Homo sapiens: one gene and its partners. The protein of the gene in region 1 purifies or fractionates together with the protein of each later gene. This does not show direct contact. Each region holds a gene or a part of one and is shown in the gene's direction. Other genes may lie near its edges.

Region 1 (4,281 bases):
GTGCGTGTCCATGCATTTTGGGAAGGAGTCCTTGCTGTCTGCTGGTCTGTGTGCTCGGTGTCCGGGGAAGTCTGAGAACCATGTTGTTCACTCTCTTCAGCTCTGTGTGTTTGTGTCAGTCAGTGAGAGCATGAGTGAGTCGTGTGTCTTTTGCCCTGCACCTCCCTTTCACCTGTGGCTTAAGAACTCTGTACTATGCGGCCAACAGCCCACTCTTCCCCAGCTCTCAGGGTGGCTCTGAGCTAGTCTATTCCCCTTCTGGGCCTCTCTCTCCTTAGTTGTTCTCAGAGGCTCCTTTCCAGAACTGGCCTGCAGATGGTCAGGAAAATCCTCTGAGTAGCGTTATTGTAAATTCCCTACAAGAGGAGAATGGAGAAGGCCCTGTGGAGCCTGGCCTGGGCAGAGAGGAAGCCCGGAGGGGAGACAGGACAGAGACACTTATAAAGGACAAGAAGGGGCCGGGTGTAGTGGCTACACCTGTAATCTTAGCGCTTTGGGAGGCGGCATAACCTGAGGTCAGGAGGTTTGGGAGGCGAGGCAGGCGGATAACCTGAGGTCAGGAGTTCAAGACCAGCCTAGGCAACATGGTGAAACCCCACCTCTACTAAAAAAAAAAAAAAAAAAAAAAAATTAGCCAAGCCTGGTGGTGCATGCTAGTAGTCCCAGCTACTCAGGAGGCTGAAGCAGGAGAATCACTTGAACCCAGGAGGCGGAGGTTGCAGTGAGCCAAGATTGTGTCACTGCACTCCAGCCTGGGTGACAGAGCAAGACACTGTTTCAAAAAAAGAAAAAAAAGAAATCAATGACTAAATTATTGGGCTTACAAGATAGCAGATCAGCCTCCCGAGTAGCTGGGACTACATGCATGCACCACATCTGGCTAATTTTTGTATTTTTAGTAGAGATGGAGTTTCACCACATTGCCCAGGCTGATCTCAAACTCCTGGCCTCAAGTGATGCACTCGCCTCGGCCTCCCAAAGTGCTGGCATTACAGGCGTGAGCCACTGTGCCCACCAGCAATGACCGAATTTGTATCATCAACTTTCACACTTCTCTGGGGAACTGACAGTCCCCTGGGTGGAGGGTGGAGTGGTAGCAGGGCCAAGCCCTTGGAAACCAATCTGTGAATCTGAGACTTTGTCCTTGGGGGGTGATGGAGACCATGGAGGATTTTGAACAGGTCTTGGTGTTAGAAAGATCTCTCTGGAGTCTTCAGGGGAACTGGAGGGCCCAGTGTGAGTGGGTGGTGACCCCATGAGCAGCTGGGGCTTGGGGTCCCTGCTCCACCTCCGGGCCCCACCCCCTGACATCACTGTCGCATTATTGCACCAGGTCTGGCTGACCAATAAGCTGCTGCTTGCTATGATAATGGGTCCTAGCAACGGTGTCTGACCTTGGCTAAGAGGGAAGGAGATCCTATCAGTGGGGAGAGTGTGAGGGGAGAGGGAGAGCCTGCAGGGCAGGTGAGTCCCCCAGGGCTCTCTCGCTGGGCCCCTGTGCGTGGGCGGAGCAGGAGCTTATGGTCTAATCCGGACCCCCTCAGCCCAAATTCCAACCACTGACTTGTCTGCCCCTTGCTGCCAGGACCTGTTCCAGGTTCCTACTCTTCCCACCGCAGACCATACTAGGGAGAGGGCACACCCAGGATAGGAGGCTCAGATCTGGAGGCAACAATGTCTTTTTTTTTTCCTTTTTTTTTTTCTGAGACGGAGTCTCGCTCTGTCGCCCAGGCTGGAGTGCAGTGGTGCAATCTTGGCTCACTGCAACCTCCGCCTCCTGGGTTCAAGAGCTGGGACTACAGGCATGCGCCACAACACCTGGCTAATTTTTGTATTTTTAGTGGAGATGGAGTTTCACCATGTTGGCCAGGCTGGTCTCGAACTCCTGACCTCAAGTGATCCACCCACCTCGGCCTCCCAAAGTGCTAGGATTACAGGCGTGAGCCACCATGCCCAGCCGGGAACAATGTCTTAAGGACATATTTCTGTGGGGGGTGGAGTGGGGTAGCAGAGGATGGGGTGAGTGGTAGGAGGTGAAGAGACGGGGTGCAGGGGGCAAGGAGACAATGCAGGAGGCAGGGACATGCAGCTGAAGGGAGAGTAGCTCTCTAGGTGGGTGAAGGAGCCTGGGGACCTGGGTTGGGGTCCTGGCTATGCCTCTGGATGAGGAGACCTCATTTGTCTTGTCTGAGCCTCAGTCCTTCTCCCTGTCAAATGGGGACAGTGATCCCAGACATGAGCAGCTCTCCCAGGGCACCCTGAAGACCCTTAGTGAGTAAATGTATTTTAGAGATGATGGGCCAGAGGAGGGTGAGTGGGAAGAGGGAGGACCAGGGAAGCTCCTGGTGAGGAGGAGGGATCTGAGGGGGGACCATCACGACAGGAGCTCTGGGCGGTGGGAGGGGAACTGAACCCCGGGAGGCAAGGGCTGCCATGGCAGGGGTGGGGTTTCATGGAAATGACTCCTGGTGTCCAGGTGGTCCCCATGTCTGGCTTCCCGAACCCAAGGGCGTCTGAACCCAAAGTCAGCCTAGGGCTAGCTGAACGGGGTTTGTGGGCATCACAGCAGCCCTGCGAGGTGGGGAGGAGTATCCCCCACGGGGCAGCTGAGGCTCAGACAGGGCGAGGACTTGCTCAAAGTCACACAGCTAAGAATATTACTAATGATAAGAATAATGACGATGATGGTGATGCCAATGACACGAGGCACCTGCCCTGAGCCAGGCGCCGTTTTATGGGCTGCTTTATGTCATAACTCATTCAAGTCACAGAGATCCTAGGAGGTGGTTTGCCAGGATTGTAGGTATCATTCTCAGTGTTCAGATGAGGAGAGTGAGGAGAGAGTTAAGTAACTTGCCTCACATCACTCAGTAAGTATGTGGTGGAGCCAGGATTTGATCCCAGGCAGTCTGGCTCCGGGTCTGGGTCCCCTCCACCCTACCCTCCAATCCCAGCCACCGCAGGAGTGCAGCTGTTTCCTCTGAATGGGCCTGTACCACCCTTTCCTATGCAGCCCTGGCTATGTAATTTGCCCTGGCTATATAATTTGCAAGGCCCAGTACGAAATGAAAATATGGGGCCCCTGGTTCAAATATTATAAAGAATTTCAGGCCAGGCATAGTGGCTCATGCCCTTAATCCCAGCGCTCTGGGAAGCTGAGGCAGGAGGACCTTGATCTCGGAAGTTCAAGACCAGCTGGGACAACATAGTGAGACTCCCATCTCTACAAAAAATTTAAAAAGTAGCTGGGCATGGTGGCATGCGCCTGTGGTCCCAGCTGTTCAGGAGGCTGAGGTGGGAGGATTGCTAGAGCCAAGGAGATCAAGGCTGCAATGAGCCATGATCGTAGCACTGTGCTCCAGCCTCGATGACAGAGAGACCCTGTCTCAAACAAACAAACAAACAAACAAACAATTTCAGCTAGTGTCAGCAGAGCATTAAACCAAGCACTGGGCCATTCTAAGCACAGAACCCTCCAGGGCACACATACACCCAGAAAACTGACCTGTGCCTAGGTTACCCTGGAGACTCCAATAGTGCTCCAAGAGGCTGCTTGGTGGTCATGCCCATTACCCAGAGAGGTGCTTCATTTTGCCCCTGGTCACACAGCAAGTTAGTGGCAGAAAAGGGATGTGAACCTGGGCCTGCCAGACCCCAAAGCCCTCTAACTTGTGCCAAAAATGTGTCCCCAATTCTTGAAGGAAAAAGAGAGCTGTGGGCTTCCAGGGCGACTCCCTTCACATCCGTGGTATCTGTCTCTCCCTGCCCCATGCCAAGGCCCAGGAGGTGTGAATGGCTCCCTTCTCCTCTGCAGGCGCTGAGGATCACGCATCCTGTGACTCTCCCCTGTCCCCCGCCACCCTCTGAACCACTGGCCACCATGGCTACTTCAAAGTTGCCCGTGGTGCCTGGGGAGGAGGAAAACACCATCCTTATGGCCAAGGAAAGGCTGGAGGCCCTGCGCACAGCCTTTGAGTCGGGTGACCTCCCCCAGGCCGCCTCTCACCTCCAGGAGCTGCTGGCCTCCACGGAAAGCATCCGCCTGGAGGTGGGCGTCACGGGCGAGTCGGGCGCGGGCAAGTCCTCCCTCATCAATGCCCTGCGTGGCCTGGAGGCCGAGGACCCTGGCGCGGCTCTCACGGGCGTCATGGAGACCACGATGCAACCGTCGCCCTATCCACACCCACAGTTCCCTGACGTGACCCTCTGGGACCTGCCAGGAGCCGGCTCTCCAGGCTGCCCGGCTGACAAGTACCTAAAGCAGGTAGACTTCAGCCGCTA
Region 2 (3,500 bases), on another chromosome or scaffold:
TGAAATATTTCTTTATAATTAAAATATGTCTAAGTCTCTTTTTTTTTTCCCCTCCAGAAACTGTATAGAAGAGAAATTCATCCGCCATTTAAACCTGCAACGGGCAGGCCTGAAGATACATTCTATTTTGATCCTGAGTTTACTGCAAAAACTCCCAAAGGTAAGGAGAAAATGTGAAAATCCAAATATAAGACAACAAATATGTTTTTTTCTTGTTTCATCAGAAAATCTTTTCCAGACTCTGGGCGCGGTGGCTCACACTTGTAATCCCAGCACTTTGGGAGGCTGAGGCGAGCAGATCGCTTGAGGCCAGGAGTTGGAGACCAGCTTGGCCAACATAGTGAAACGCTGTCTCTACTAAAAATACCAAAATTAGCCAGGTTTGGTGGCATGTGCCTGTAATCCCAGCTACTTGGGTGGCTGAGGCACGAGAATCGCTTGAACCTGGGAGGTGGAGGTTGCAGTGCATCAAAATTGCACCACTGCACTCCAGCCTGGGTGACAGAGCGACACTCTGTCTCAAAAAGAAAAAAAGAAAATCTTTTCCTGGATAACTCTCTAAGCTATCTTCACATCTCCTAAATTTGCTGTAGATCAACCTTGTATCTCCCCTGTTCCACCCCAACTAGGTTATTATTGAGGGCTGCAGTTTCTAATATGGTAGCCAGTAGCCACATGTGGCTAATTAAATTTAAATTAATTAAAATTTAAAGTGTAGTTTCTCAGTCACGCTAGGCACGTTTCAAATGTCGAAAAGCTGCATGTAGCTAGTGGCTATCAGACTGTAAAGTTAAAGAAAATTTCCATCATTTCAGGAAATTCCATGGGACAGCATTAATTTTGAATACCATTAACCCTATAATTCATCGATGTATTATAGTCTTCAAATGAATTAGCTATTTTCTAGGCTCCGAGGGACTAGGATGTTGGTGTTGTAATGGCAATACACAATCAGAACAGATCTGATACAGTGCCTCACAGGTATCCTGGAAAGCAAGAGGTATATACTGTGTACCTGAGAAATAGAATTCCAGAATAAGTGAAAAAGGTCATAGTGTCAACAGTTTTTCCCTTAATTTCCTTTCAAATGAATCTTCTTTGTCACTTCTTACTCTTTTCAGATTCACCTGGCATTCCACCTAGTGCTAATGCACATCAGCTTTTTCGGGGGTTTAGTTTTGTTGCTATTACCTCAGATGATGAAAGCCAAGCTATGCAGACAGTTGGTGTACATTCAATTGTTCAGGTGAGTGGATGTCTAAATAATTTTAGATTTGGAATGTTGTAAGATATAGTTCATTCTGTGAATAGATCTTTTTCTACTGACTTCAAGTGAGCAATTTAAAATACATTTTAGACTGGGCATAGTGGCTCACACCCGTAATCCCAGCACTTTGGGAGGCCAAGGCAGTTGGATCACTTGAGGTCAGAAGTTCAAGACCAGCCTGGCCAACATGGTGAAACCCCTATCTCTACTAAAAATACAAAAATGAGTTGGGCATAGTGGCACGTGCCTGTAATTCCAGGTACTCAGGAGGCTGAGGCACAAGAATCACTTGATTCTGAGGCAGAGGTTGCAGTGAGCGGAGATCGCACCACTGCACTCCAGCCTGGGTGACAGAGTTGAAACTCTGTCTCAAAAAATAAAATAAAATACATTTTATATCATTAACTTTACTCTTAGGAATTTTTTTCATATGTCATCGAAAAGGTTGCAAGAACCAAAATCCTAGATACCTATGTGACTTGAAAGTAGAGTTTTAGGCCAGGTGCGGTGGCTCATGCTTGTAATCCCAGCACTTTGGGAGGCCGAGGCGGGCAGATCACAAGGTCAGGAGTTCGAGACCAGCCTGTCCAACACAGTGAAACCCCGTCTCTACTAAAAATACAAAAATTAGCTGGGCGTGGTGGCGCATGCCTGTAATCCCAGCTACTTAGGAGGCCGAGGCAAGAGAATCACTTGAACCCGGGAGGCAGAGTTTGCAGTGAGCCGAGATCCGCCACTGTACTCCAGCCTGGGCGACAGAGCTAGACTCTGTCTCAGAAAAAAAAAAAAAAAAAAGAAAGTAGAATTTTAAAAGAGTTGAGATAAACATGACGATGTTGTCTATATCCTCTCCTGTGCCTCAAAATGTTTTTCATGCCGAGTTTGTTTCACCCTCTGCCTCCTTCAGGTCAGCTATGATGAATTGAGGTCTTCTGGTTCTTTGATGCCTTAGAACAGGAGTCGGCAGACTTTCTCTGTGAAGGGTCAGATAATACTTGAGGCTTTGTGGGCTATATGGGCTGTGTCACAACTACTCAACTCTGCTATGTAGCACAAAACAACCACAGACAATACATAAACAAGTGGGCATGGCTGTGCACCAATAAAACTTTATTTACACACACAGGCAATGAATCAGATTTGGCTCACTGGCCATAGTTTGTCAACCTTTGCCTTAGAAAAGATACAAGAAATAAAAATGAACTCAAATCTTAAGTCATCTTTCTAATCAAAGGGAACTCGATATATCTTTTGAAGCATTGGATTCTTTTTAGGATATCATTTGTACTTGGATTTGCTTGATGATTAAGTTGCTTTTGCTCTAAAGTTTTTTCATGAGTCAGTTATCCTGTTTTCCATTTTGTAGAAAAACAATTAAAACACTGGTTTTTAAGCAGAGCTCATGTTGAAATAGTCTGTGCCATTTACTATGCAAGCACATGAATGTATGGCAAGTTTTTAAATTACAAATTCTGTACCTAACATAGAAACCACAAACTTGTATATCCTACAAAATTCAAGTTTTAACATATACAAAGCTCATAGGCATGGATGTCTCATATCAGTATAGCCAAGGGCAGCACAACTTTCCTCAGCCTGTTTATGGAATCAGTAAGTTGCTGTTCATCATCTACTGTGTGTTATTAGTCCCTAACCCATGACGAGCTTCTTTAGCATAAGTTGTGTAAGGCTATGACTTCAGGGTGAAGAAAGGAGGGAGTGGCTACTGAAAGTCCAAAATGGCGATAACAGGTATTGCTTGCAAATACATTATTTTTATTTAATCTTCACCATTACCCTCTGAGAAAATACAGGCTCAAAGTTACATAGCCTGTAAGTGGTGTACCTGAGACAAGAATTCAGATATTCTAATTCTGAATCCTCCTAAATCCTTTCCTTCTATACCATAGGTTTCAAACTTCTCATTTGCAAAGGTACTTGAAAACCTATAGCCGACTGGGGACTGGAATAAGGCTGAATCACAGACAAAGATGTAGGCCCCATATCAAGTAGCTCTGCTTTTTCTGTTGTGCAAATTCAATTTTTGTTTGTAACATAAGCTTTTTTAAGTCATATTTCTTGCTGTACACTTCATTGTAAACACTTTCAAAATCACTTGTTTGTAGAATAATAAGTACTATAAAGATGTATTTTTATTCTTATTCATTTATATGTAGGGCATCAACAATGCATGCTGAGTAACATACTTCCCTATTATAAAATGCACTAAAGG
Region 3 (3,725 bases), on another chromosome or scaffold:
ACTTGAAGGAACGTATCAGATTTTAGGTATATTTTTGTCATTCTAAGCAGTCAACACTGAGTCTTGAACATAGAAAACTCTCTAACTCTTTGCTAAATGCATTTATTTAGAATCTCCTAGCTTGGGATAGAGTTGGGATTAGTTAACTTGCTGAGTTTCCTTCTATCTCTTAAAATGTAGTCCTTCACTAACTAGAGGTTTTAAGAATCTCTGCCTTTAGCATAAAAGTAATGATGGCATATGTGTTACTCAGCTGTTTCTGTTTTAAGGGGTCTCTAAGAAGTATATGTCCAATATGAATAAAAATATTGAGTTTAATTTATTAAACAATATCTAGAGGTGTGACTGAGCTAACAATTCCATATACTGGCAGGATGCTGAGGTTTGAGTCCAACAGTAATCGTTTAACACTGAGCAGTTTAAAAAATGTTTAACCATTTGCCAACAAGTTTATCCTACTGCACTTCATTTTCATTCCTCATTTATCTCCCTCAAATATAACAACTTACATATTCATCTCTGCCCTTTAACAGTGCACATTTCCATTTCATGCTGTAATAGATTGTTAGATTCGATTGTGGCTCCAAGCTGTTATATGTGAGAAATAGGAAGTTGCGCACCTGTTTTGCTAAACAGAAGTTTTGGTTCATTCTGCTAGAGTCAGACATTACGAATTCAAGTGTGGGCTGGGTGCCATGGCTCATGCCTGTAATCTCAGCACTTTGGGAGGCCAAGGCAGGCGGATCACCTGAGGTCAAGAGTTCAAGACCAGTGTGGCCAACATGGTGAAACCCCATCTCTACTAAAAATACAAAAATTAGCCAGGCATGGTAGCGCACGCCTATAAGTGCAGCTACTCGCTCGAGGCTGAGATAGGAGAATTGCTTGAACCTGGGGAGGTGGAGAATGCAGTGAGCTGAGATCGTGCCACTGCATTCCAGCCTGGGTGACAGAGTGAGACTCCATCTCAAAAAAAAAAAAAAAAAAAAAAAAAAAAAAAAAAAAAATTCAAGTCTGGACTCAAAATGCATCCCTTTTCGTTTTTGCCTTCTATATCCTTGGTCTATGACTGCACAAATTCAAATGTTTTGCTTGGTTTGTCTTTTTAAGTTGATACTTAGCTTCAGCGACTTGACAACAGTAACCTTTAGTCTTTTAATACTTACCTGACAGTATTTGTGCATTACTGTAAATAACTAATGAGACTTATATTTTATAAACTAAATATATTTTTACATAGCTATCAAACAAAAAAATCCCTTCGGTTGTGATTCCATAGTGTATCCTCTGGTGAATTACTTTTAAAAAATTTTTCTTTTTTTATAGAGAAAAGGTCTCACTATGTTGCTCAGGCTGGTCTTAACCTCCTGGCCTCAAACACTCCTCCAGCTTTGGCTTCCCAAAGTGCTGGGATGACAGATCTGAGCCACCATGCCTGGCCTGTGAATTACTTTTATAAAGTGGAAATGTCTTTCTTTTGTGTGAATTATCTTAGTTGTTTCTTCAGATATAAAATACTGTGTGTATGTATGCATGTGTGTGTACACACCACACACATATTAAGTGCAAGCAGGAAAAATTTCAAATTAACCTATATGAGTTGCCTCAATTTTTTTAATAAACTGTATTTAATTAAACTGTTAACCAAATGCAAGCCTTAGGAGGAACTCTAAGATTCTTCTTTCTCGTTTTTTTTTTTTTTTTTAAATCTTAACATAAAAATACAAAGTGTTGAAAGTATAGATAACTTCTTTTTTCTTTTAAAAATATCCCTTAAAAAGATCCATCCATGTTCACTCATGTCTTTTTTTAGTGACTATTAAGACGTTGTGGCAGATGGGATAATTAAACTTATGTCTGTGATCAAGATAGAATTATCAACACTCCTGAGTATGAGGGTGTTAACACATACTAACACACGGCATTTCAGCTTTTTGTTAAGAAGAAAATTCCATACGATTTGGTTTCCTTCCATATTAGTTATAATGCGTTTGTCTGCATAAATTGGGTTTTATGTAGCCTGACTCAAGTGCTTGGAAAGAACTATGTTAGGTACATTATAGGAAGTGCAGAGTAGTAGACCGATTCCAAAAGTATTTGATTCAGCAAATCAATGACTTTATTGTAGATCCAATTTCTTTCTCTTTCTCTGCTTTACTCATCACAAAATTACTATTATCCAAAGGCTGTTTTTCTCCTTTGGTAATCAGTTCAATTCAGAAAGAGACAACCATCTGTTTCTGCAGTCCTGGACTGTGTCTTTCCCTTCATTCTGGTTAGACCCACCCAAGACCAATATTCTTACCCTAATCAACATCCAACTTTGGATTGGAGCTGAAGATGAGAGTGAAAACGGGAATAAAATGGATATTCTGTTGGAAAGATGAAAGAAAGGAGTGGATGGTGGGTAGGCAAACAAGGGTCTGCTATTTCTTCTTCTAAACTTTTAAAAAAATATTTATTTTTATGGCCGGGTACAGTGGCTCATGCCTGTAATCCCAGCACGTTGGGAGGCCTAGATGGGAGGATTGTTTGAGCCCAGGAGTTCAAGACAAGCCTGGGCAACGTGGCAAAACCCTGTCTCTATGCCAAAAATACAAAAATTAGTGAGTCATGTTAGCACACACCTATAGTCTTAGCTGCTTAGGTGGCTGAGGTGAGAGGATCACTGAGCTCCGGAGATCAAGGCTGCAATGAGCTGAGATTGCGCCATTGCGCTCCAGCCTGGGTGACAGAGGAGACCCTGTCTCAACAAATTTAAAAAAATATATGTTTTTATTGAGGTATAGATGACAAAAAAAAATTACATATATTTACCGTGTACATGTTATTTTTGTATATGTATATATTGTGAAATGGGTAAATCAAGCTAACTAACATGTCTATCACCACTATTCCCTCTTTATTAGCTTTTAATATATATTAGTTTTCTGAAATTTTAGATTGCTTCTGAGGTTGTTAATATCAGGAATAGTTCCTTGTAATATGCAATACTGAACCTGTGTCACAATAGATCTTAATTTCAGGTTTTCCTTATATCAAAGTATCCTCGAAAAACCCAAATGCTTATACGTTCACAGTTTTTATGTGGAGTATGCTGGAAAACTTGCTTTTTAAAAATTAAGACTAAACCTTTTGAATATTTAATTGTAAAGGAGGAAATAAAGTCTTCAAAGTTAAAATGATTTTTGGTTATGAGGTAAGTGTTATAAATAGGACAATGTTATAGGTCATTTCATGGCTTTTCTAAAAGAAGGCCTTACGTGACGTACCTATATTATATTCTTTAGCAAAGTTGTTTTCAATTTTAAGTAAGTTTCTTTTTTTGTGACTGTGGAAAATTAAATATTAAGGCCACTAAGGTCATTCTTGATTTTACCACACACAGATAATTATTAACACTTAGTGTATTTCCCCCCGGTCTTTATTTTTCTTTTCAGAATGTCCCAGTGAATAGGATATACCTTTTAGACATTAATAACACAAATAAATGCTTTGAAGCTGATGATGGATTTATTAAACATTGTGGCTTTAAGATAACTGAATATGTTAATGTTCAGCCACTCTCTTGTTAAAATTTAAAAAAGACAGTATATGGTAATAGCACATTAATAATTTGCATGTCCTAAGAAATGTGTATATATCTTTCTTTTGTATAAAATTAAACTTACCTGTGTAACCTGAGGTTATCAGTGTCCTTGTCTTTTTCGTTCTGAAAGGAAATC

What was found.
Region 2: the proteins of IRGC (region 1) and RPS6KA3 purify together in Homo sapiens (affinity purification with mass spectrometry; one large-scale study listed by BioGRID and IntAct). This does not show direct contact.
Region 3: the proteins of IRGC (region 1) and AP3S1 purify together in Homo sapiens (affinity purification with mass spectrometry; one large-scale study listed by BioGRID and IntAct). This does not show direct contact.

What each region holds. Positions count from the first base shown.
Region 1 is NC_000019.10:43,714,679-43,718,959, forward strand, and holds the start of IRGC (interferon-inducible GTPase 5), read left to right. Parts: upstream 1-1,397; 5' UTR 1,398-1,464; intron 1,465-2,198; exon of another isoform or gene 2,199-2,271; intron 2,272-3,701; exon of another isoform or gene 3,702-3,769; coding exon of another isoform or gene 3,770-3,880; coding exon 3,881-4,281. UniProt on the Homo sapiens protein: Required for sperm motility and therefore male fertility, via positive regulation of spermatozoa fibrous sheath formation.
Region 2 is NC_000023.11:20,172,910-20,176,409, reverse strand, and holds part of RPS6KA3 (ribosomal protein S6 kinase alpha-3), read left to right. Parts: intron 1-57; coding exon 58-160; intron 161-1,121; coding exon 1,122-1,246; intron 1,247-3,500. UniProt on the Homo sapiens protein: Serine/threonine-protein kinase that acts downstream of ERK (MAPK1/ERK2 and MAPK3/ERK1) signaling and mediates mitogenic and stress-induced activation of the transcription factors CREB1, ETV1/ER81 and NR4A1/NUR77, regulates translation through RPS6 and EIF4B phosphorylation, and mediates cellular proliferation, survival, and differentiation by modulating mTOR signaling and repressing pro-apoptotic function of BAD and DAPK1.
Region 3 is NC_000005.10:115,844,868-115,848,592, forward strand, and holds part of AP3S1 (AP-3 complex subunit sigma-1), read left to right. Parts: intron 1-3,725. UniProt on the Homo sapiens protein: Part of the AP-3 complex, an adaptor-related complex which is not clathrin-associated. The complex is associated with the Golgi region as well as more peripheral structures.